2 linked regions of the Homo sapiens genome follow. The protein of the gene in region 1 interacts with the protein of each later gene in a biochemical or structural test. Each region holds a gene or a part of one and is shown in the gene's direction. Other genes may lie near its edges. The genes, in order: GCKR and GCK.

Region 1 (7,267 bases):
CATCTTTTTCTGCCCCTCTTTGACCTTCTTCCTTTCCCTGGCTGCCCCTCAGGGGCAGAATCACCCTTTCCGCCCTCACTGGCCCCCACATCACCTGTCTTGTCCCCACTGGCCTTCCCTGAGGACTCTGTTCCGGCCCCTTTCCCTTCTCCTTGGGATTGTTGTTGGAGTCATTGTCCTTGATGATGTCATACTGACGGCAGAACAGCCCAATTACAGCTGAAACACAATACAGTCTGAGCCTTCATCTCCACTTCCCCCCTCATAGGGAGATACCTACGTAGCTTCTAGAAAATCCATGAAGAACATCCTGAATTCCTGGTGCCCATGCAGTCCTCCTCTCTGGGCTCTCAACAGCCTCCTCTCCCTCTCTTCAAAGTTCAAATCATCCCTCCTGAACTAAGTATCTCCCCACTCCACTCTATTTCTCTTACTTTTTTTTTTTTTTTTTTTTTGAGACAGAGTCTCGTTCTGTTGCCCAGGCTGGAGTGCAGTGGCATGATCTCGGCTCGCTCACTGCAACTTCCACCTCCTGAGTTCAAGCAATTCTTCTGCCTCAGCCTCCTGAGTAGCTGGGGTTACAGGCGCCCTCCACCACACTCTGCTAATTTTTGTATTTTTAGTAGAGACGGGTTTCACCATGTTGGCCAGGCTGGTCTCAAACTCCTGACCTCAGGTGATCTGCCTGCCTTGGCCTCCCAAAGTGCTGGGATTACAGGCGTGAGCCACTGTATCTCTCACTTCTTTTTCTCCTGACAACCTTTGCCACCTCACACCTTTACTGAGTCCCTGGTCCCCTGTCTAGCTGCTTACTCACCAGCCCACATGAGCAACACCACCACAATGATGACCACTTCCCCAGTCTGCAGTGGCCGCTCTCCATCCAGACCTTCCACTGTGATGTCACCTGAGAAGGGAGAAGGCAGAAGGCAGACTCCAGGTTACTGGGGTCCATACTGCAGACATGCAGGATGGAGATGCTGGGGATTAGAAAGGGTGGACCCATCATAATGTTGCCCTTGGAGTGTAGGGTAGCCCCTCCCTGGGAGGAAGCCGTTGGTGGACAGGTGGTTAGCGACCAAAAAGCGGGATGGCTGCAGGTTAATTACTCACTCATGCAGGCTGCAGCTGATGTGAAGTTGGGTAACAGGAAGCTTAAAAGGCCTTCCCCCAAACAACTCAATACCAGCCTGTCTATACCCAATCCCCTTCCCACCTGCTTTTCTTTCCTTTCCTGGCAGTACAATGAATTAAATCATCCTATTCAACTCAGCTAGTCTGTTGCTTGTCTTGGGGAAGTAAGTAAGAGGCTGCAAGCCAGGTAAGCAGCCAGAGAATCCAATAGCACAGATCCTCACCTGGGCTTGAACTGTTTGAAGGTAGCCGGTCAGAACCCTTGAGAGTTCGGAAGTGCACCCGGGGCCCTGGGGGACTCTCTCCCCGAAGGCCGATGCTCCTGACCTGCACTGTGTAGTCACTGTCTTCAGCCAGGCCCCAGAGGGCACAGGCCCGGGTGGTGGTGTTCACCTCCCGAATCACACGCTGCCCGGGGCCATTCTGCCGCTGCAGGGAGATGAGGGGAGAGGAGGACAGCCTCACCCCAGTGCCAGGCCACAAGGCTCAACCAGAGACTCTTCAACATCCAAGCACTCCGGGGGAGTAGCGTGAAAAGGGCAGCCTGAGCCAGGATACGCCAGCTTCCAGATCCCCCCCACTTAAGTGAAGAAATGTGCCGAAATCCAAGGACACAGGTTGGGGGAGCAGAAGGGTGATTCATACTTGCTGGGAAATGGAGTAGCCAATGACGATGTTGCCTTCTGGGACGTCCCAGGACACAGTGGCCGAGTTGGCTCTGAGGTGAGTGACCGTCACATTCACAGGAGAGGGAGGCCGGTCTGCGGGAGCCAGGGTGTTTAACAGGTTTCACCCATTGACTAGCTGTGGTTGACCCTCAGCCCCGTTCCCCTTTACTTACCTGCTCGCACGAAGCCCAGGTCACAGCTGACCAGCAGGAGGACCGTGGGGCTTAGATATGGGGAAAGGGGCACCAGCGAAGCCATGTCCCCACGGAGTCCGCTGGGGGGGGAACTGTGGCATCCGCTTGGCATCCGCTTGACATCCAGGCGGGGCTCCTGGAGATGGCAGGAGTTGTGGGGGGTCAAGGACTGCCCAGAACGCACGGAGGTCGGGGGGCAGCAGCTCTCCTGGGCTCCCCACAGCTCACAACAGCCCTATTTTCTCTACGCCCTCCCGCCCCCGCATTGCCCGGGCGGCCCCAGAGTGCGGTCCGCCCTGCCCACACCCACCTCCGCCGGTCCTCGCGGTTGGTCAGGCCTCGGGGGGCTGCTCGGTGCCCAGAGGGCGGCCCATCGCCCGACTCGGTGGCGCTGCCCCTACCCCATCCCGGCGCGGGCCCGGCGACGCGGGCAGCGCGGGGCCGAGCTGCGGGCGGAGCGGGCGCGGGTCTGCGGAGCCCCCAGGGCTCGAGCGGGCCACGGAGTCTGTCCGGGAGCAGGGGGCGTTGCCCGGACGCTGGCCTGGGTCCCCGGTGCGGGAGGCAGTGCGGCGGCCTCCGCCCGCCCCTGCAGCGGGATGTGACCGTCCCGGAGAGCCAGCCGCCGCCTTCTGCAGCGCTGGCCCCGCTCGCTCCGCCGCAGCCCGGCCGGGACGCGCGGGCCCGCCCCGCCCAGCCGGGGTTCTCGCCGCCGTCATTCCCCTCCCGCCCCCTCACTCCCGTCCTCTCGGGGCTCCTCCCACGACCCTCCCAATGGCGCCTCCGGAGCCCCCATCCCTTATCCCTTCTCTCTCCCAGCTGAAGCGGACGAGTCGGCGGGGGCGTGGGGGGTGAGACGCGGGTGCTAGGGTCTCCGGCACCTGGGAGATCCCCTTCCTCCCCGCGTGGAAGAGCCAAGTTGGGAAGAGGAATTCCACCTCCAGTGCCCGAGGGGCTAACAGGAGAGGGGAGAGAGTGAGGGAGATAATAATTGCTTTAACAATCCCTTACTTGTAGACTGCGTCAGCTTTTAAGTCTCTTTTCCATTCATAATCTCATTTAATTCCGTTCGCTTTCTCATTCATTCTTTCATTTATTCACCAAATATTTATTGAGCATCTCCTATGTGTCTGGCATTATATTAAAACCTGGAGATACAGTGATTGTTAAGAGTGTTGGGCTTCTCGGGAGAATCAAAGCGCAAAGACCTATGGCTTTTTTAAAAAAATTATTATTCCTTTCTTTTCTTTTTTTGTTTTTCTAAAGCTCTACCACTTACGGTGTGGTTTTGGAGAAACTGGTTTATCTGTGCTTCAGGTTTCCCACCTGTAAAGCAAAGCGTGTGAAATCTCACAGGGTTGTTGTGAGGCTCAAATGAGACGGGAAAGATCTTTATAAATCTCACAACACTATGTGACTGGATGATGGAGATTAATTTGCACCAATCTGTTAGTTACTTCTTTGTTCAATAACATGTAAGCCCTTACATTATATCATGCTTTGGTTGAGCTTGAAATCTGAATTGAGAACCTGGGTGTGAGTCCCAATTTGTCCAGCTGTGTGATCTTAAGCAACCAACTAAACTACTCTGAGCCTGTTTCATCATCTGAAAAATGAGGGTGTCAATATTGACCAACATCTTAGTGTTGGTGTATCCAATGAGATACTGTCTGTGAAAAGTGTGTTGTTCAGTGTAAATAAATGTTGGCTAACATTGTATTTAGGGCAGATTCTTTGGTTTCTAATTCTCAATGCAGTATTTCTGTTTCTGTGGGATTTTTCCCGCTGTAATATCCAGTACAGTGTGTGCACACTTGGGGCTCAGAAGCTTCTACTGCCTTCCTTTCTGAGAGGAGAGGATAAAATGGGACCAGTGGGACTGACTGTGTGTGCTGAGCATGTGATCAAGCCATGGGCCAGGTCCTCTGACTTGTGCTGACTTGGTGACCCTGATCTCTGGCCTCGGAGGACACTTGCCCAGGGATTCTCACTGCCGTGGGTGTTGTCCTGCACTCCCAGGCTCCAGGTCCTCTGTAGAAGAGGGCATTGTCCCGGTAGGGCAAGAGTCCCGAGCCTCAGGTCTTCCTCTTCAGGGGCCAAAGCAGAGGCTGGCGAGTCAGGGTGCTTGCAAAGAGGAAGCCCAGGAGTTTCCCTGGGGTTACCAGAGGGCTGGGGGCCTAGTGACCAGGAAAGGGTGGTGCTCTGAGAGCCCAGGGTGCTTGGGTTAATCATCACTGGGGCTCAGATAAGGCCCTGCCAACTGGAAGCAGAGTCATTGTGACCAGAGGGGTTTGTGTGGCTGAAGAGGCAGGAGGAACAGTGTATCCACAGCGTGGGACCATGCCAGGCACAAAACGGTTTCAACATGTCATTGAGACCCCGGAGCCTGGCAAGTGGGAGGTGAGACCCCTTCTTCATGTTGGCTTTCTGTGCTGATTCCTAGAATTATTTTTCATCCAGTCTTCCCTCCCCGCTGGTTTCTGCTCACCTCTTCTTCCTTCCTGATGTTCTTTCCCTAATATGCCCAGAGCACCAAGTGCAGGCTGAGTTTCTGGTGTGGTATGTGTGTGCGTGTGTGTAAGTCCAAACTCTGTGCCTGCTGCCACTCCCACCTCCAGCTCAGCAGGCATGAATGAGGCTTTGGCTTCCTGCTCCATCCTTGTCCCCTCTTCCTTCTAGTTGTCTGGGTACGAGGCAGCTGTGCCAATCACGGAGAAGTCAAACCCACTGACCCAGGATCTAGACAAAGCAGATGCTGAGAACATTGTTCGACTGCTAGGGCAATGTGATGCTGAGATCTTCCAGGAGGAGGGGCAAGCCCTGTCCACATACCAGGTAACCAAGACCCAAGACCTGGACCCTGGAAATAAACATGCCAACCCCAACCCCACCTCTGCTCTCCCTCACCATGGCTCCTAATATCGGAAACCCTGAGACCCCCTCCCCCATTCATCGTCCTCCTTTTCTTGGCTTCTCATTCCTGCATATTCCCTACAGAGACTCTACAGCGAATCCATTCTGACCACCATGGTACAGGTGGCTGGGAAAGTTCAGGAAGTGCTGAAGGTACTAACCTTCCTTCTGTTCCCTGCCTAAACTTTTCTGTTTCCCTCTTTCTCTTTTTACTGTCTCTATTTCTCACTTTGATAGATCTCATTCTCCTTTCTCCCTTTTGGAGATCCTCCCTTTTGGATCCTTATTTTCATCTTATTAATAAATAATAATGATAACTTCTCTGCTTAATACTTTATAATTGACAATCTACTTTCACACCTATTACCCTCACAAAAGCCTGTGAAGTTGATATGACTTCTGTTTGTTTTCCTCAGATGAAAAAACAAAGATTTAGAAAGGATAATCACTGTAGCTTGCTCAAATACACTGAGCTAATAATTGCTGGATAATGCTGCTTTTATTATTTACTTTTATTTAGATGACAAAGCTGCTTTCAGTTCTTTCTGGGAGAAGTAAGGATTTGAACAAGTAGTGGAGCAAGACATGGGAGTCAAACTGGTTTCTCTAATCCAATGTTCTTTTTGCTACACTACATTGCATGTATTTGTTCAATTTTGTGATGAGAGGAGGGATAAGGAGTCTTTCCAATTCCTCTTGCATTACTGACAAAGAAAAGAATATTCTTCTCCCAACCTGAGCCAGGCCCTGGTAATATATGCCTCTTTCCTTCTTCAGGAGCCAGATGGGGGGCTGGTTGTGCTGAGTGGAGGGGGCACCTCTGGCCGGATGGCATTCCTCATGTCGGTGAGCACCCTGGTCTCCAGTTTTCTTCCCCCTCCACTTCTGGAGGTGACCCTCAGGACCATAAAGATCATCATAACTAAGCTCCCAGGTGGCCCCCTCACTAGACCTGGACTCCAAGCCTGGCTCTTTCTCTCTTCCAAAAGCTAGATGTCACCATGAAGTCCCATTTCTTCTGAGCCCATCTGAGTCCCGCCAGTATGTTGCCAATGTCTCTACATCCCATGCACCACCGACTAATCATCTCCAAGTAGCAGCTTTAAGTGCGAGATTCCATGTAGGACTGGGTTAAGCACTGGTCTAAGAGAATCATTATATAGTCTCTGCCCTCTAGGAGTTGAAAATCCAAGATAATTGTTTCTTCTCTGTCATTACCTCTTTACATCCTCTCCCTGCTTGACAGGTGTCCTTTAATCAGCTGATGAAAGGTCTGGGACAGAAACCTCTTTACACCTACCTCATTGCAGGTGGTGACAGGTAAGCCAAGTTAGCCTATGAATATTTTGTTTGACCTAAATAGTATTTCTTAGAAATTGAGTTGGAATACCTTTAGACAGAGATTGTGTCTGGCTTGTCTTAGTCCTCACCATTCCTTATTCCCTCACACTTGGCCCACTTCACATACTTATGTCGCCTGACTGGCTGTTGTAGGTATTTGAGTTTTTCAACTCTATGGAGTGTCTATCATGCACCAACAAACTGTGGGTGCTCATTCAATGATAGTTTTCCCTTTATGCGCATCTCTTAATGTAGCCTGCCCTAATACGCCATAGGCTTCTGCTTTCCAGCCACTGCCACTGACCTTGAGTCTGTCCTCTTAGGTCTGTGGTGGCCTCTAGGGAGGGGACAGAAGATAGTGCCTTGCACGGGATTGAGGAACTGAAGAAGGTCTGTGCTTTTCACTGACATTGACCAGAGACCTCTATCTGTTCCTTCTCATGGGGACATAAAAGCCCCAGCATTCAGCCAAAGCCTATTTCCTCCCTCCCCTGTTCCTGGCCCTGATATCCTCACACAGTAGATTTGTGCCCTGGAATCCTCCCAGTTACACTACCTTGTCCATCCTCCTCTCCTAGGTGGCTGCCGGGAAGAAGAGAGTGATTGTCATTGGCATTTCTGTGGGACTCTCTGTGAGTAAAAAGATGGGTTGAGTGGATCAATTTTAGAGAGAGGAAGTGAGTGGGAATGGAATAGCATGGAAGATAGATCAATGAGATCGGTGCTAGAAGGCAGGAAGTTTGCTCAAGGAATTTTGGTTTTAGTTTCACTAACTTGGATCAAGTTGTGTGAATGTGGGAAGATGGGGAAGGGATTCTATTTCAGAATAACTGTGTATCAATCAATCAACAACCAAGATAGGTGGACTAGTCCAGGGGTAAGCAAAATATACTGGCTGGCCAATGCAGCCAGCTGCCTGTTTTTAAAGTTTTTTGTTGTTGTTGTTTGTTTGTTTTTGAGATGGAGTCTCGCTCTGTCACCCAGGCTGGAGTGCAATGGCATGATTTCGGCTCACTGTAA
Region 2 (15,863 bases), on another chromosome or scaffold:
AGTGGGATGGTGTGGGGACCTCCCTGGCCCCAGCAGCCAGTGAGGAGCCTGGTCAGTCAGCAGAGCATTCAGCAGTATCCAGTTCCATGGAGAGGCCCGTGTGAGGGGAGTCGGGGCTGGTCTTCAGTAAGGATGGGTGGCCAGGGCCCCTAGAAGTAGAAAAGGAGACTCCGGGTGCTGGAGACAGAAATCAAGGATGTGCCTCCATGTGGAGCCTCAGGAATAGCTGGCCAGGCCTGAGGCTGAACCTCACAAGGTTCAGCTGGGAGGGCTAGGCTGACAGAGCACAGCCGGGCCAGGGACCAGCCTGCCCTGTGTTGCCTTGTCCCGAGGGCCACTGTCAGCAGGTCTCTGGCATGGGGGAGGCTTAGGGCCTGAGCCCAACAAGCAGCAGCGGAAGAGGAGAGGGAAACTGTGGACAGGCCTGGCATTCAGTGGCCAGGTGTTGCAGTGTCCCTGAGGAATAGCTTGGCTTGAGGCCGTGGGGAGGGCTGCCGGCCAGCGCACCCCCCCATGCCAGATGGTCACCATGGCGTGCATCTTCCAGCTCTTCGACTACATCTCTGAGTGCATCTCCGACTTCCTGGACAAGCATCAGATGAAACACAAGAAGCTGCCCCTGGGCTTCACCTTCTCCTTTCCTGTGAGGCACGAAGACATCGATAAGGTGGGCCGGGTGGAGGGGCAGAAGGCAGATGAGGGGAGGCACAGGCACCCCAGAGGAACTCTGCCTTCAAATGTAGCCCCCATACCATGTGCTCAGAAGGGAGATCTGGATTCAAATTGTGGCCATGTCACCTGCCACCTCTAATGCTGTGGAAAAGAAGCATCACATTAGCTAATTCTGGCTGTGCGCCTTGTGAGGCACCAGCTATGATCACCCCACTCCAGTGGAAAGAGCAGCTGGCAGTAGGGTGGGGCTCAAACTCAGGCAGCCGGGCTCTGGGTCACCTGCAGGCCACGGTCATGTCACACTGCCTCTAGCTGAGTCAGAAATGTGAAGGAACTGAGATTCTACCCTTCCTGCAAGCTAGCAAAGTGGCCTGCCAGTTACATCTGTGCATGCACACACACACACAGTTATATATGCACACACATAAAACACGAGACCTTTGGGTCAGGGAGAAAGCCAGATCCTCACTCACGGCAGAAGCAGCAGCCAAAGCAACATCTCATGTGGTTTTCCAAGCCCCAGTCCCTACAGAGACAGAGAGGGCCAGGTGGCACCTGTGCATGCAGCGGGGTACCTTGCAGGAGGGAAATCCTGATTTTACACAAAGCTGCTCCCCCCACGCCCTGCCTTGACTCTGGGATGACGTCTCAGAGCTGTGCAGTACAACATTCTTAAATTGGCTGGGACTCAGCCCTGCAGAAATATGATATCTTCAAGGAGAATCGTTCCCAAAACCTCTCAAAGCTATGGGGCTGCTCTGAGCCTGTTTCCTCAGCTGTAAAGTAGGGTGCATACTTTTATGGCCCTGTGCAGGAGGTAGTGACAGGCCCTAGCACCCTGCCTCCAGTATATGTTAGCAGCCACGAGGCCTATCTCTCCCCACAGGGCATCCTTCTCAACTGGACCAAGGGCTTCAAGGCCTCAGGAGCAGAAGGGAACAATGTCGTGGGGCTTCTGCGAGACGCTATCAAACGGAGAGGGGTGAGGGGGCACCTGTACCTGCCGGGGGGGCTGCCCTGGGCCACCCACCCCAGCACTGCCTGCCTTTCTCCTTGGCTTCCAGCACTGCAGCTTCTGTGCTTCTTGGCAGGACTTTGAAATGGATGTGGTGGCAATGGTGAATGACACGGTGGCCACGATGATCTCCTGCTACTACGAAGACCATCAGTGCGAGGTCGGCATGATCGTGGGTAAGGGCTCCTTGCACCCCTGCCCCTTCCAGACTGCTGAGGCTCCCTGTGTACAACAGGCTTCAAGGGCCCTGTGGGGTGAGGACCAAACTACTTAACAACCGGTGATGTCAGAGCAGAGCCTGGTGCTACAGCCTGGGTGGTCTTGGGGTATCAAGATGGAAGCACCGTGTACAGTAGGAAGCATTTCAACGCCATGATGCCACATTCCTGCATCAGATGGTATGCCAGCTGCATATCCACCTCACCCATCAGGATTATAATTAAAACACTTATCTGGTAAATTGACCAACTGGACAGATTGGTCCAAGTGGAAGAGGATAAGCAAAAGTGGTACCATCTCCACCCGAATGGTCTTTCCACGGGCCTGCCCCTGCCCCTGCCCCCACCCAAAGTGAAGGCAGGTACCAGGAAAGGGAGCAGCAGTCCGCCCCTCCCAGCAGAGGGGTCTTCCACACCAACTCGGACCTTTCTCAGAAGTTCCGGAGGTCATTATAACCAGCCTTCACTGAGGAGCAATCCAATCAGATCAGTTATCTGCTGTGCGCACAGCCGTGTGGTTCTATACTTCTCTTACTTCCATTTTCACCTTTCAGAAGGAACGTTGTCTTTAAATCCAGCATCTAAACGTGAGCCCCAGCCATCCCTGGCTGTGATCCCCCCAGCCCTTTCCACCCTATCCTCTGGAACTGCCTGGGGCTCCCCAAGACACTTCCACATGAATTCCCACCAAGCCAAGCTGCAGCTGCTGGGCCCAGGCATAACCCCTCCTGGGGCAGAGGTGGCAAGGAGTGACCCACCACTCACATCTGCCCCACATCCACTCTTGACTCTGCTCAGTGTTTAAAAACATGTTTATAACAATTACCAAGATCTGAAAATTAGGAGAATTCACATCAAAGTCTGGATTTCTGTTTGTTCATAAAAAACTAGAAGGCAGCCAGGCAAGGTGGCTCACGCCAGTAATCCCAACACTTTGGGAGGCTAAGGCAGGCGGGTCACTTGAGGTCAGGATTTGAAGACTAGCTGGCCAACAAGGTGTAACCTCGTCTCTACTAAAAATACAAAAATTAGCTGGGTGTGATGGCGCATGCCTGTAATCCCAGGTACTCAGGAGACTGAGGCAGGAGAATTGCTTAAACCCTGGAGGCAGAGGTTGCAGTGAGCCAAGATCACGCCACTGCACTCCAGCCTGGGTGATGGAGTGAGTGAGACTCTGTCTCCAAATAAATAAATAAATAAATAAAAACTGGAAGTCTAAGCATCACTGAGCCCTGATTCCTATGTGGCAGCTCGACTGACCAGCATTTGAGTTGCTGTCCCTGACAGCTTTGGGGGTGTGCAGCCCACACAGTCATGCTAGCTTGAGGCTCTGCTGTCAGCAGTTTGAAACTCTTAATAACTTGTGAACAAAAGACTCCATGTTGTCACTCTGCACAGGGGCCAGCAAATTACAAAATTCCATATCCGGAATTGTCTACAGGAGCCTCTGGGCTGCTCCCAAGGGCCCACACCATGCCTTACTCACTTTGGGTTGCCATCCAAACATGTCTCATGACAAAGAAGCTCAAACATGTGCATGGACAGTGCCAGAAAACAAGGGTCGTACATAGACAAAATAAAATGATAACGTCCCACAACCATTTCTTTGATACACACTGTTTCTCTCAGTCCTCCCAACCACCTAGGTAACAGGCAGGGAAGGTGTTACTGTTGCCTGTTAGGAAAGAGGACAGCCCTGAAAGCTGTCCCTGGCCACTGAAGCAACCCAGGTCTTCCAGCCCCAGGGAGAGCCGCCTTTCCATTGTTCCAGACAAAGCAGAGACAGGCATGGGGGAGCGGGAGAGGGACTCCTGTGGGCAGGAACCAGGCCCTACTCCGGGGCAGTGCAGCTCTCGCTGACAGTCCCCCCGACCTCCACCCCAGGCACGGGCTGCAATGCCTGCTACATGGAGGAGATGCAGAATGTGGAGCTGGTGGAGGGGGACGAGGGCCGCATGTGCGTCAATACCGAGTGGGGCGCCTTCGGGGACTCCGGCGAGCTGGACGAGTTCCTGCTGGAGTATGACCGCCTGGTGGACGAGAGCTCTGCAAACCCCGGTCAGCAGCTGTAAGGATGCCCCCCTCCCCCACAACCCAGGCCCTGGGCCGCTCTGGTGCAGCGGCAGATGGGAGCCGGGCCATTGCAGATAATGGGCTTGTTTTTAAACAACTCTGGGGAAAAGCAAACTGACAATCCGTTCGTAAGCTCCATCCCTTCTGCTCAGTCATGACCTGCCCCTGTGAGAGATGAAGGGTTAGTCCCAGTTGTGATGTGATAAGCCCAGACCTCTTTCCTTCCGACAGGTGATCGTGCATGCAGAGGAGGCTCTGAGACGCCCCCAGCAAGGTTCCTGGGTTTAACCCAACATTCCCCAAAGTATGTATTTGGCCACATTCACAGAAAGAATATTAGTCTTTTGTGGAATGCTGCGGGTTGACAGTCACAGCTTGGAAACCAACCCACAGAGAGCTCATCATTAATCATGGCTATCACTTGTTTACCACCTACTGTGCCAGGCCTATGCTAATTACTTTATTAGCGTCCTCTCTGCCGCTCGCAGGCCTCTATTATTATAGGTCAGTAGTATTCGATTTATTTAAATTAAATACGGAAGGTCATAGATTAAGCAAGAAAGTGCCAGCAACATGGTGCGTGCCTCTGACTGGGCACTAACCCTCCAAGTCTTAGTTTTCCCAACCATAACTGGCCAATGAACAGCAGCTCTGGATGCAGCTAAAGGAAGACTGAAGCTGTAGGTCCCGTGCTCGGCGCAGGGCCCCCTGCAAGGAAGGTTTCGGAGGGACTGGATGGGGTCTTTGAACTATCTGTCTTTCCCTTTACTGCAGTGGGCCCAGGGGCAGGCCAAAGTTGCTCCCGTGATTGACTTGAACGTGCACGTTCCTAATCCCTGACATTTCTAAAGCTCTGGCTCATTAACGAGGGAAAGACGTGAACCAGCTGGGGGAGTGGGGATCGCAGTGCCCCACGTGGCCGCCTCGTGACCTCAGTGGGGAGCAGTGGGGCCGGCTCCCGGCTTCCACCTGCATGAGGGGCCCTCCCTCGTGCCTGCTGATGTAATGGACCTGCCCTATGTCCAGGTATGAGAAGCTCATAGGTGGCAAGTACATGGGCGAGCTGGTGCGGCTTGTGCTGCTCAGGCTCGTGGACGAAAACCTGCTCTTCCACGGGGAGGCCTCCGAGCAGCTGCGCACACGCGGAGCCTTCGAGACGCGCTTCGTGTCGCAGGTGGAGAGGTGTGCGGAGGAGGAGGGTGGGTGCAAAGGGCAGGGGCTGGGGACGCCCGGGCACTGCAGACTTGGTCTCAGGGCGACGCTGAGTCCCAGGCCCGGGGCGCAGGGATGGGAAACTAGGGCCTGGGGCGGGATTCCGGGCGTGGGCGGGGCCCGGGGCGGGGCACAGGGGGCGGGGGAGTGGGCGGGGCCCGAGGCCGGGCGCTGGAGGCGAGGGCGGGGCAGGGACGGGTCCAAGGGCAGGAGGCTGGGACAGGACGGGGATGCAAAGGGAGGGGCGGGGCCCGAGACGGGGAGGAGGGGGAGGGCCCAAGGGGAGGAGGCGGGGTCCGGACGGGGATGCCAAGAGCAGGGATGGGAGCGAGCCTGCGTCCGGGCACTGGTCCCCATCCGTGAGTCCCCTCGGTGCTCCCTGCCCGCCGTGGCCATCCTCTCACATCACTCACAACCCCAAGGCGCGGCATGGTTGACACCCCCACGTTAGGACGGAGACCCTGGGCTTAGTTAGAGGGGGCAGTACTAACCAGTCCCTGGCGGAAACGCTTTGGCTGGGTGAGGTGAGCGGGATCGCCCCCATTTCTCCAGAGAGGGGTCCCGGCTCAGCGAGGGAAAGAGGCCGCCGCTGGGGGGACGGCTGGCCGGGGCCCCTCCCTGGAGAACGAGAGGCCGCCGCTGGAGGGGGATGGACTGTCGGAGCGACACTCAGCGACCGCCCTACCTCCTCCCGCCCCGCAGCGACACGGGCGACCGCAAGCAGATCTACAACATCCTGAGCACGCTGGGGCTGCGACCCTCGACCACCGACTGCGACATCGTGCGCCGCGCCTGCGAGAGCGTGTCTACGCGCGCTGCGCACATGTGCTCGGCGGGGCTGGCGGGCGTCATCAACCGCATGCGCGAGAGCCGCAGCGAGGACGTAATGCGCATCACTGTGGGCGTGGATGGCTCCGTGTACAAGCTGCACCCCAGGTGAGCCCGCCCCGCTCTCTCCCTGGTAAAGTGGGGCCCAAAAAGCGCGCGCTCCAAGGTTCCTTGCGGTTCCCAAGCTCCAAGATTTCGTAGTCCTCTTCTCGTCCCCCTTGGCCTAGATTTGGGGGAAGGGTCGACTGCGTGCAGGGCGCCCGGTAATGAATGTGGAGGATGAGGTGGGAGGAGGGACGGCAGCCCTGCTTCTCTTCTGCCCAGCTTCAAGGAGCGGTTCCATGCCAGCGTGCGCAGGCTGACGCCCAGCTGCGAGATCACCTTCATCGAGTCGGAGGAGGGCAGTGGCCGGGGCGCGGCCCTGGTCTCGGCGGTGGCCTGTAAGAAGGCCTGTATGCTGGGCCAGTGAGAGCAGTGGCCGCAAGCGCAGGGAGGATGCCACAGCCCCACAGCACCCAGGCTCCATGGGGAAGTGCTCCCCACACGTGCTCGCAGCCTGGCGGGGCAGGAGGCCTGGCCTTGTCAGGACCCAGGCCGCCTGCCATACCGCTGGGGAACAGAGCGGGCCTCTTCCCTCAGTTTTTCGGTGGGACAGCCCCAGGGCCCTAACGGGGGTGCGGCAGGAGCAGGAACAGAGACTCTGGAAGCCCCCCACCTTTCTCGCTGGAATCAATTTCCCAGAAGGGAGTTGCTCACTCAGGACTTTGATGCATTTCCACACTGTCAGAGCTGTTGGCCTCGCCTGGGCCCAGGCTCTGGGAAGGGGTGCCCTCTGGATCCTGCTGTGGCCTCACTTCCCTGGGAACTCATCCTGTGTGGGGAGGCAGCTCCAACAGCTTGACCAGACCTAGACCTGGGCCAAAAGGGCAGCCAGGGGCTGCTCATCACCCAGTCCTGGCCATTTTCTTGCCTGAGGCTCAAGAGGCCCAGGGAGCAATGGGAGGGGGCTCCATGGAGGAGGTGTCCCAAGCTTTGAATACCCCCAGAGACCTTTTCTCTCCCATACCATCACTGAGTGGCTTGTGATTCTGGGATGGACCCTCGCAGCAGGTGCAAGAGACAGAGCCCCCAAGCCTCTGCCCCAAGGGGCCCACAAAGGGGAGAAGGGCCAGCCCTACATCTTCAGCTCCCATAGCGCTGGCTCAGGAAGAAACCCCAAGCAGCATTCAGCACACCCCAAGGGACAACCCCATCATATGACATGCCACCCTCTCCATGCCCAACCTAAGATTGTGTGGGTTTTTTAATTAAAAATGTTAAAAGTTTTAAACATGGCCTGTCCACTGTTCTTTGACTTCTGTGCATTAGGACTGTGGGGACAATCTATAAAGAGTCTGCGTCACATGCATGAAGACACTTCAGTATCTCGGCAATGCCCTCCAGACAGCTCCTCCAGCCATCTGTGCCAAGGGGAGTGTGAGGAGTGACAGACCAGGCTGTAGGAACAGGAATGGGGTGTCATGGGGGATGGCAGAGCAGTGGACAGTACACTGCCTGGCCCGGGCCCCTGCTTGCCTGCCCATGGAATGTGTGCAGAGGGAGTGCCAGGCCAGGTGCTGCTCTGGAGAAGTGGGGGAATGAGGCTGGTCCTGCTGCAGGTCAGTCTCAGCACCGTCCTGTCCAGTCAGAGTCACTTAGGTTTGCCAGTGAGTAGGGGCCCAGATACATGTTGGATTTCTAAGGTCCCTCCAGATGCTCCTGTCAGTGGAACGCCTATTTAGAGTTAGCCAAGCGTAGGCATAATGCCATCTTTCTGCAGCATAAAATACAGTGACATAGAAACATATTTGTGTGATTTTCATGCATTCCTTTTTTGATGAGAGATATTACCCAGCTAATTAGGAACAACTGTTTTGTTTCCTTCAGATCATAACCCAAAGTTGTGATTTTGAAAAGTCATGTCCCCCTTCAGATTTCTTGTTTTCTGCTACTTCTCATGTGGAATTGCTTTGGCTCTTCTTAGTTCTCTTGAGTCTAAATTATTCCTTATAAGTTGGTGCAAGCATCTGATTATTTTGTTATCATTACTGTTATGCTCAAGCATTCACAGAGTGGAACACATTTTAATATCAATTGCTTTCTATTTCTCCTTTATATTACAGTTCAGGACATTGTATTAATTATTAAAATTCTATTCGTAGGTAGGTTATATGACTGAATTGAAATAGATAAAATGAATTTCTTTTCTAGATAACAAAGGAGGTGTCATAAAACACTTGTTATGGGCCAGTGTGATGGCTCATGCCTATAATCTCAGTGCTTTGAGAGGCTGAGGTGGAGGATTGCTTGAGGCCAGGAATTTGAGACCAGCCTGGGGCAACATAGCAAGACCCCATCTCTTAAAAAAAAAAGGGTGGGGCGGGGGGGCACTGCTGGGCGCGGTGGCTCATGCCTGTAATCCCAGCACTTTGGGAAGCCAAAGCAGGTGGATCAAAAGGTCAGGAGTTCGAGATCAGCCTGGCCAACATGGTGAAACCCCAACTCTACTAAAAATACAAAAATTAGCCGGGCATGATGGCGGGTGCTTATAATCCCAGCTACTCAGGAGGCTGAGGCAGAAGAATTGCTTGAACCCAGGAGGCGGAGGTTGCAGTGAGCAGAGATTGCACCACTGCACTCCAGCCTGGGCAACAGAGCGAAACTCTGTCTCAAAAATGAATTAATTAATTAAAAAAAGAAAAAAAAAACACTGGGCAGGGTGGTGTGCACCTGTAGTCCCAACTACTCCAGAGGCTGAGGCAGGAAGGAGCACTTGAGCCCAGGAGGTTGTCTGCAGTGAGCTCTACTCATGCCACTGCACTCCAGCCTGGGTGACAGAGCTCAGTGGCTTACACCTGTAATCCTAGCACTTTGGGAGGCTGAAGCAGGCAGATCACCTAAGATCAGGAGTTCGAGACCGGCTGGCCAACATGATAAAACCCCGTCTTTACTAAAAATAAAATAAAATAAAAAATATATATAAAAATTAGCTGGGTGTGGTGGCACATGCCTATAATCCCAGCTGCTTGGGAGGCTGAGGAACAAGAATGGCTTGAACCCGGGAGGCAGAGGTGGCAGTGAGCTGAGATCGCGCCACTGCACTCCAGCCTGTGCGAGAGTGAGACTCTGTCTCAAAAAAAAAAAAGGGAATTTAAGAAATTTAAAAGAAAACTCTTGTTATATAAAAAGGGTATTGGGTCTGACAGATAAGAGCTCCTGCACTCTACCAGCCAGCTACTGACAGACATAGGTCTGGCTCCAGTGGAGGGGCAGCAGCCAGTGAGCCCAGCCTGGGGTGGCCCACTCCTGCTGCCTCCAGGATGTCCCCTGTTTCCCCAGCCCCTCTGCTGTGCCCTCGGCCCCAGAAGCTGGCGAGACTGCTTCTCTGGAACAGCATCACGCAGGCCTGCCCATCGGCCCACTGTGCACCAGGCCTTCTGGGGATACAGATGTCAACCAGGTGGGGTGCTCAGGAGGGGCACAGAAGCCAGGAATGACAAACACATCAGCCACCAGGCAAATGGGAAATGTGCCCCAGAAGCTCCCTGCTGAGGATGTTAGGGAGAGCATTCTGAAGTAGTGTGGTTGAGATGAGGCTTGAGGAAGGCAAGGCTCCAAACAGCAGGGCAGACTGGGAGCAAGGTAGACTGCATGGGAGGGCAGCTGATGGAGCTCCTTAACCCTCTGGAATTGCCCCAAAGCCAAGCAAAGTGTTCTTCTTGGGGTCACAGCTAGCTCAGGGATGCCTTCTGCCCCTTGGTCAGAGGGGCAAAAGGTCAGAGCCTAGGGTCACCAAAACCTCTGGGAAGCCCCGGGGGTCTCAGGCCACAGACCATCCTCAGAACTACACACTGCCCTCCCATGCCTGGCGGGGGCCCTGGACTGGCCCTCACCAGCTGTCTTCTTGCACTGGCCAGGGTTCTGGCTGGACTGGCAAGGAGGGGTGGTCAGATACAGGAGTAACTGGATCCCTTCATCAGGACCTAGGGTGGTGAGAGCTTTGAGCCTGCTCTGCTCCAGGCAGACATTGTGTCTGGCCCTGCCAGGATGGATAGACAGCAGGATGTTACACGTTGAGGACATGAAGGTCATCAGGAATGTGGCTGGAATCTGTTAGGCCTCCCCCAGCCCAGGCGGGGGCTGCCAAGTTTGGGCCTATCCTCTGTTCCTCTCCTTATTTGGACCTTCAGGTGATAAGGCTGAGACATAAAGGAGGCTGGGCCCTGCCACCACGACAGCAGCCACACCTCTGCAGAGAGAATGGTGAGTGCCTGCTGGGGAAGAAAGGCTAGCGGTCTCCCAGGTGCTGGCCTTTGGGCTGGGGGAGCAGAGTTTTCTGTGCTTGTGTTGGGTTGAGGGTGGTCCCCAGGGAGAGGAAGAGGATCCTGGCCCTGGCTCTCCTGGGAATGCTCTGGGACTGTGCATGATGGGTGGGGTGGGGAGACTCTGAGGAGTTGGGGAGAGGACCCCTCCCTACTCACAGTGTTGCAGGCCAGCAGGAAGGCGGGGACCCGGGGCAAGGTGGCAGCCACCAAGCAGGCCCAACGTGGTTCTTCCAACGTCTTTTCCATGTTTGAACAAGCCCAGATACAGGAGTTCAAAGAAGTGAGTGCCCACTCCCAGTAGCCTCAGATCCCATCCTGGCCCCCCCACCCCACCCCACATACATACCCCCCTTCTACCCTGACCTTGCCTCTCACACCACCCAGGTCTCTCCCCCACCTCCCACCTTCCCTAGAGCTGGGGGCTGCTCCCACCTGAAGGCCCCCATCCCACAGGCCTTCAGCTGTATCGACCAGAATCGTGATGGCATCATCTGCAAGGCAGACCTGAGGGAGACCTACTCCCAGCTGGGTGCGTGCACCCACCTCCCACCCTGCGCACTGGGGTCCCTACTCTGAGCTGCTGGGCGGGTGGGAGTGGCTGGGGGGACAGGACTCTGCTCCCCTGCTTCCCCTCCTCCCCGTCTCCTCACACTGCCCTTCCCCCCTTGTCACGCCTTGCTTCCACTTCACCTTCCCGACCCACAGCTGCCTCTGCCCCTCCAGCCCCTGTGGCCAGGATGGAGGGAGGGCGGCCTGGGCCTTCTGGGGGACACCCAGGGTCCCTGTGTGCACCTCATGCCCCACCCCCACCAGGGAAGGTGAGTGTCCCAGAGGAGGAGCTGGACGCCATGCTGCAAGAGGGCAAGGGCCCCATCAACTTCACCGTCTTCCTCACGCTCTTTGGGGAGAAGCTCAATGGTGAGCCTGGGACAGAGCTGGGCACCCTTGGCCAGGCAGGGAGCCTGCACCCTGCCTGAACCCCACCTGAACCCTGCCTGAACCCCACCTGAACCTTACATGAACCCCACCTGAACCCTAACTGAACCCCACCTGGACCCACCTGGACTCTTCCTGGCCATGACCCATTCCAAGCACATCCTCTGCCCCAGAATCCCATGTGCACTGGTCACCCCAGTGCTGACTTGGAGCCAGGAAATGTGCCTTCAGCCCCCACCCCCAAATTCCAGTCTCCCAGCCAAGCTGCCCGCCTCAGGAGGATGACCATTCCCAGCCCCACTGATCCCCGAGAAACATTTTATGTTAGGGAATACCCCCACCTCTTCTGGGATGTGGGAGGCTCCTCATGCAGCCCAGTTCCTCCTGCGGGGGACCTGGGATGCTGGAGACATGGATGCTCACCTGGCTGCCTCGGCCTTCCAGGGACAGACCCCGAGGAAGCCATCCTGAGTGCCTTCCGCATGTTTGACCCCAGCGGCAAAGGGGTGGTGAACAAGGATGAGTAAGTATGGGCCCAGCCAGATGAGGAGCACCGTGGTGGAAGCAGAGAGCGGGGTGAGGCCCCTAGTGAGGGGGGCTGCCTGTGCTTCGGGGCCTTACACTGCTCTTTGGGGTGCAGCCAACCCTTCCCTGCGCCATGGGAGCCTCCGTACCCACCTTCCCTGTGCAGTCACTCCCCCGCAGTCTCCTGCTCAGACCCTCCTCACCCCCCAGGTTCAAGCAGCTTCTCCTGACCCAGGCAGACAAGTTCTCTCCAGCTGAGGTGAGGCTGCCCAGCCCCTTCAATACTCATCCCCAGCACCTTCTCTGGGCCTTCACCCATGACCCAGAGCCCAGTACCAGTGAGGCAGTTGCTGGAAGGGTGAGCCGAGGGCCCTTCTGGAGGAGGTGCCATCTCTGTTGAGACCTAGAGGGTAAAGATGTGGAGTCAGAAAAGAGGGCAGGGTGCGCCAGGCAGGGAGACTGTGCACAGACCTGGGGGGAAGTGGATAGGGAGAGGTTTCGTACACTCGGGGTGGGCCTGTGCCTGTGGCTGGAGGGGCGTCCTTTGCCTCTTGGCCCACATTTGCACTGACTCCTCACTCTGCCCAGAGTCAGCCAAGAGAAAAACATTAACCCAGAGTCTGGGGTCTAGGGTTGAAAAGCTAAGGCAAAAAGCACAGATGCAGGGGGCAGACAGAAAGGCCACAGGACTCAGGTGAGGTCTCTGCCGGGCTGGGCCAGGAGCCAGGGGACTGCCACTCACCAGTGTCCCCTGCAGGTGGAGCAGATGTTCGCCCTGACACCCATGGACCTGGCGGGGAACATCGACTACAAGTCACTGTGCTACATCATCACCCATGGAGACGAGAAAGAGGAATGAGGGGCAGGGCCAGGCCCACGGGGGGGCACCTCAATAAACTCTGTTGCAAAATTGGAATTGCTGTGGTGTCTTGTCTGTGACAGATGGGTTGGGGACCAGCCAAGGGGGATCCCAGGGTCTCAGTGCGCACATCACCATGATCATGGCCACCATCTACCTCCTGGGAGCTGGCCCCTCGCCAGCTCACCTTGATTCACTCCCATGATGCCAAGTGAAGTGTGAACTATGATCATGCCTAGTTTACAGATGAGGACACTGAGGCCCAGAAAGTGTGAGCATCTTACCAAGGCCAGCCCTCTAGAAGAGGAGATGGTGGGATTTACACCACCTCCACCAAGCCCAGGAATGAGCCACAAAGTGGGCACTGCCCAGCTACTTGGGGCTGTGCAGAGAAGAGGCTGCTTGCTGGGCACTCAGCAAACTCTGCCCAACAGCCCAGCGGGTGGGCAGCAGCCCTGGGACCCCCACACCCAACCACACAGCCTCCCCTGGCCCACTGCTCGCACCCCATCTCAATACACTGGCTTGGGTGCCTCCCTGCATGGGCCCTTTGTGAAAGGCAGAGAGGTACCCATTTGAAACACAACCAGCTTCTCATTGCAAATACAGGCAAGGCACTAAGACATGAGGAACATGGACACCAAAGCAGGGGCCAGGTAACATGCAAATTTCTAGAGGAAATGCCCAGAACCTGGCATCATGCCTCCTGAGCCCCTCATGCGCCGTGAGGGGTAAGAGGGTCAGACAGCTGGAGTGTAGGGAGACGACTTCTCAGGAGAGAATAGTTAGTGCTCCCGTCACCCTTCATCTGAGAACCCAAGAGCTAGAGGAGAAAGTGATCCTCATGAGTACCAGAGGAGCAGCAGGGGACATCCAAAGCACCAGAGAGAGAAACAGAGACAGAGAGACAGGCAGTGACAGCTCAAACCTCAGCCAGATCCAGAGCATACAAAGTCTCCTGCCTACAGGACAGCCCAGTAAGAGCTCTCAGCTTGCCTCCTTCCCTCCCCACAAGCCCTGCTGCAATCCCTGTACCTGGGGGTCAGTGGGAAGGAGGTGAGCGAGAAAGGAGGGGCACCCCTTCCTGAAGGCCCCAAGAGGAAAGGCGTTTTCACCCAGACAGGTGTTCAGTTTTGATTTTATCTGGCGCCTGGCAATTTAATTACTAAATTGAAACTTGAGACTTTCTGGAATTATGGCATTTTCTGTTGCTTAGAGAGATTACAAAAGTCACGAACTGCCTGAGTTTCCATCCTGAAAGCAGGCCACCAGCCCACTCCACTGACCATGCTGGAACAGTGGATGAACAAAATCAAGTACCATTAGGATTCTACCACATGAGTCTGCTTGTTCAACAAGCTGATTTCATAAAGTAAGGGATCATGTTATAATCCAAGCTCTACAGGGGTAAATTGTGAAAGACTAAAATGAACCAAAAAGATCATAGGTGTCCAGTTATCTGATTTGATGGGGTGTCTGAACCTTTTGTTATCTTTGAGCTGTTTCAAAACTCTCTAAATTATTATTATTATTTTTGAGACAGAGTCTCTCTCTGTCACCCAGGCTGGAGTGCAGTGGCATGATCTCAGCTCACTGCAACCTCCACCTCCCAGGTTCAAGTGATTCTCATGCCTCACCCTCCCAAGTAGCTAGTATTACAGATGGGCACACCTTGCCTGGCTAATTTTTGTATTTTTAATAGAGACGTGGTTTCACCATGTTAGCCAGGCTGGTCTCGAACTCCTGACCTCCGTTGATCCACCTGCCTCTGCCTCCCAAAGTGCTGGGATTACAGGGGTGAGCCACCGTGCCCTGCCACAACTCTAAATTATAACTAATAGCAAGGCAATGGTTCTTCTCTATTAACGTGCAAATAAATGTTGTCCAGTGGAAGCACAACTGATTTTTCCCTTCTCTGTGGAAGAAGCCAATTTTGCATCTATTAAGCAAATTCATCTGGGCATTCCTAACCGTCTACACATGCACCGGCTCTTTGAATTCTTCTCTGAACCAGGCCCAGGAATAAGCCACAAGATGAGCACTGCCCAGCTCCTTGGGCTGTCACATCTTATTGATTCCCACATGAATTCACAAGTAAATAAAATATTTGGCGGTTGTTCACTTAGTATGCAAGTCAATATTTTGCTTTAAAAATATTATCCTTTCACACTCCTGATATAGTTGTCTGATAAGGTTAGTCCTTCCCACACCAAAACTGCCTGTATTAGTGTTGTTTGGAATAAACTGAGGGTAGAATGTATATGGTGTGTGTATGTGGTGTGTGTGTTTGTGTGTGTGTGTGTGTGAGAGAGAGAGAGAGACAAAAGAGAGAGACAGAAGGATAGAGAGAAACAGATGGGCACAGACCCAGGACATGAGTTCAGCCTACACTGACCAATATGACAGCCACTGGCCACTTGAAATGTGGTGTGAGTTGGGATATGCCAAAAGTGTAAAATGCACACAATATTTTGAAGATTTCATACAAAAAAGAATGCAAACATCTCATTAATAACTTTTATATAGATCACATGTTGAAATGATAATGTTTTGGATATTAGATTATTACTAAAATTAATTTCACCTATTTCTTTTCACTTTTTAAATGTGGCTACTAGAATATTTAGAATTCCATAAGTGGCTTGCATTTCTGGCTTTCACTCCTGTTGGAAAGCACTGAGTTAGACTGTGTAGTACGTCTATTTAAGACTGCAGTTTCCAGGCCGAACACCGTGGCTCACGCCTATAATCCCAGCACTTTGGGAGGCCGAGGCGGGCAGATCACCTGAGGTCAGGAGTTTGAGATAAGCCTGGCTAACGTGGTGAAACCCTGTCTCTACTAAAAATACAGAAATTAGCCAGGTGTGGTAGTGCATGCCTGTAGTCCCAGCTACTAGGGAGGCTGAGGCAGGAGAATCTCTTGAACCCAGAAGGGGAGGTTGCAGTGAGCCAAGATCAAGCCACTGCACTCCAGCCTAGATGACAGAGCAAGACTCCATCTCAAAAAAAAAAAAGTAGAATAAAAATAAATAAATAAATAAAGACTGCAGTTTCTGGGAGACTCTGAGGCAGGCATTAGCCTTCTCTGCAGAGAGTACTTGCAGCAGGGAGCAGCAGTTTTGATGTCCTCAAAAGGAGCCAATTTCATTTGGGTAGGGTTG

Evidence for each region.
Region 2: the proteins of GCKR (region 1) and GCK form a complex in vitro, tested with the Homo sapiens proteins (2 studies listed by BioGRID and IntAct, with this or other methods).

The regions. Positions count from the first base shown.
Region 1 is NC_000002.12:27,492,572-27,499,838, forward strand, and holds the start of GCKR (glucokinase regulatory protein), read left to right. Parts: upstream 1-4,267; 5' UTR 4,268-4,333; coding exon 4,334-4,393; intron 4,394-4,672; coding exon 4,673-4,828; intron 4,829-4,990; coding exon 4,991-5,059; intron 5,060-5,683; coding exon 5,684-5,752; intron 5,753-6,152; coding exon 6,153-6,226; intron 6,227-6,570; coding exon 6,571-6,637; intron 6,638-6,825; coding exon 6,826-6,879; intron 6,880-7,267. Other genes in the region: FNDC4 (fibronectin type III domain-containing protein 4 precursor), read right to left, coding at 95-219, 818-907, 1,359-1,563, 1,780-1,895, 1,976-2,108. UniProt on the Homo sapiens protein: Regulates glucokinase (GCK) by forming an inactive complex with this enzyme. Acts by promoting GCK recruitment to the nucleus, possibly to provide a reserve of GCK that can be quickly released in the cytoplasm after a meal.
Region 2 is NC_000007.14:44,135,760-44,151,622, reverse strand, and holds the end of GCK (hexokinase-4), read left to right. Parts: intron 1-547; coding exon 548-667; intron 668-1,558; coding exon 1,559-1,654; intron 1,655-1,686; exon of another isoform or gene 1,687-1,763; coding exon 1,764-1,863; exon of another isoform or gene 1,864-1,934; intron 1,935-2,331; exon of another isoform or gene 2,332-2,452; intron 2,453-3,789; coding exon 3,790-3,973; intron 3,974-4,989; exon of another isoform or gene 4,990-4,996; coding exon of another isoform or gene 4,997-5,004; coding exon 5,005-5,160; intron 5,161-5,478; exon of another isoform or gene 5,479-5,496; coding exon of another isoform or gene 5,497-5,549; exon of another isoform or gene 5,550-5,714; intron 5,715-5,892; coding exon 5,893-6,126; intron 6,127-6,342; coding exon 6,343-6,487; 3' UTR 6,488-7,348; downstream 7,349-15,863. Other genes in the region: MYL7 (myosin regulatory light chain 2, atrial isoform), read left to right, coding at 10,318-10,320, 10,549-10,662, 10,767-10,911, 11,196-11,300, 11,763-11,841, 12,054-12,201, 12,601-12,702. UniProt on the Homo sapiens protein: Catalyzes the phosphorylation of hexose, such as D-glucose, D-fructose and D-mannose, to hexose 6-phosphate (D-glucose 6-phosphate, D-fructose 6-phosphate and D-mannose 6-phosphate, respectively).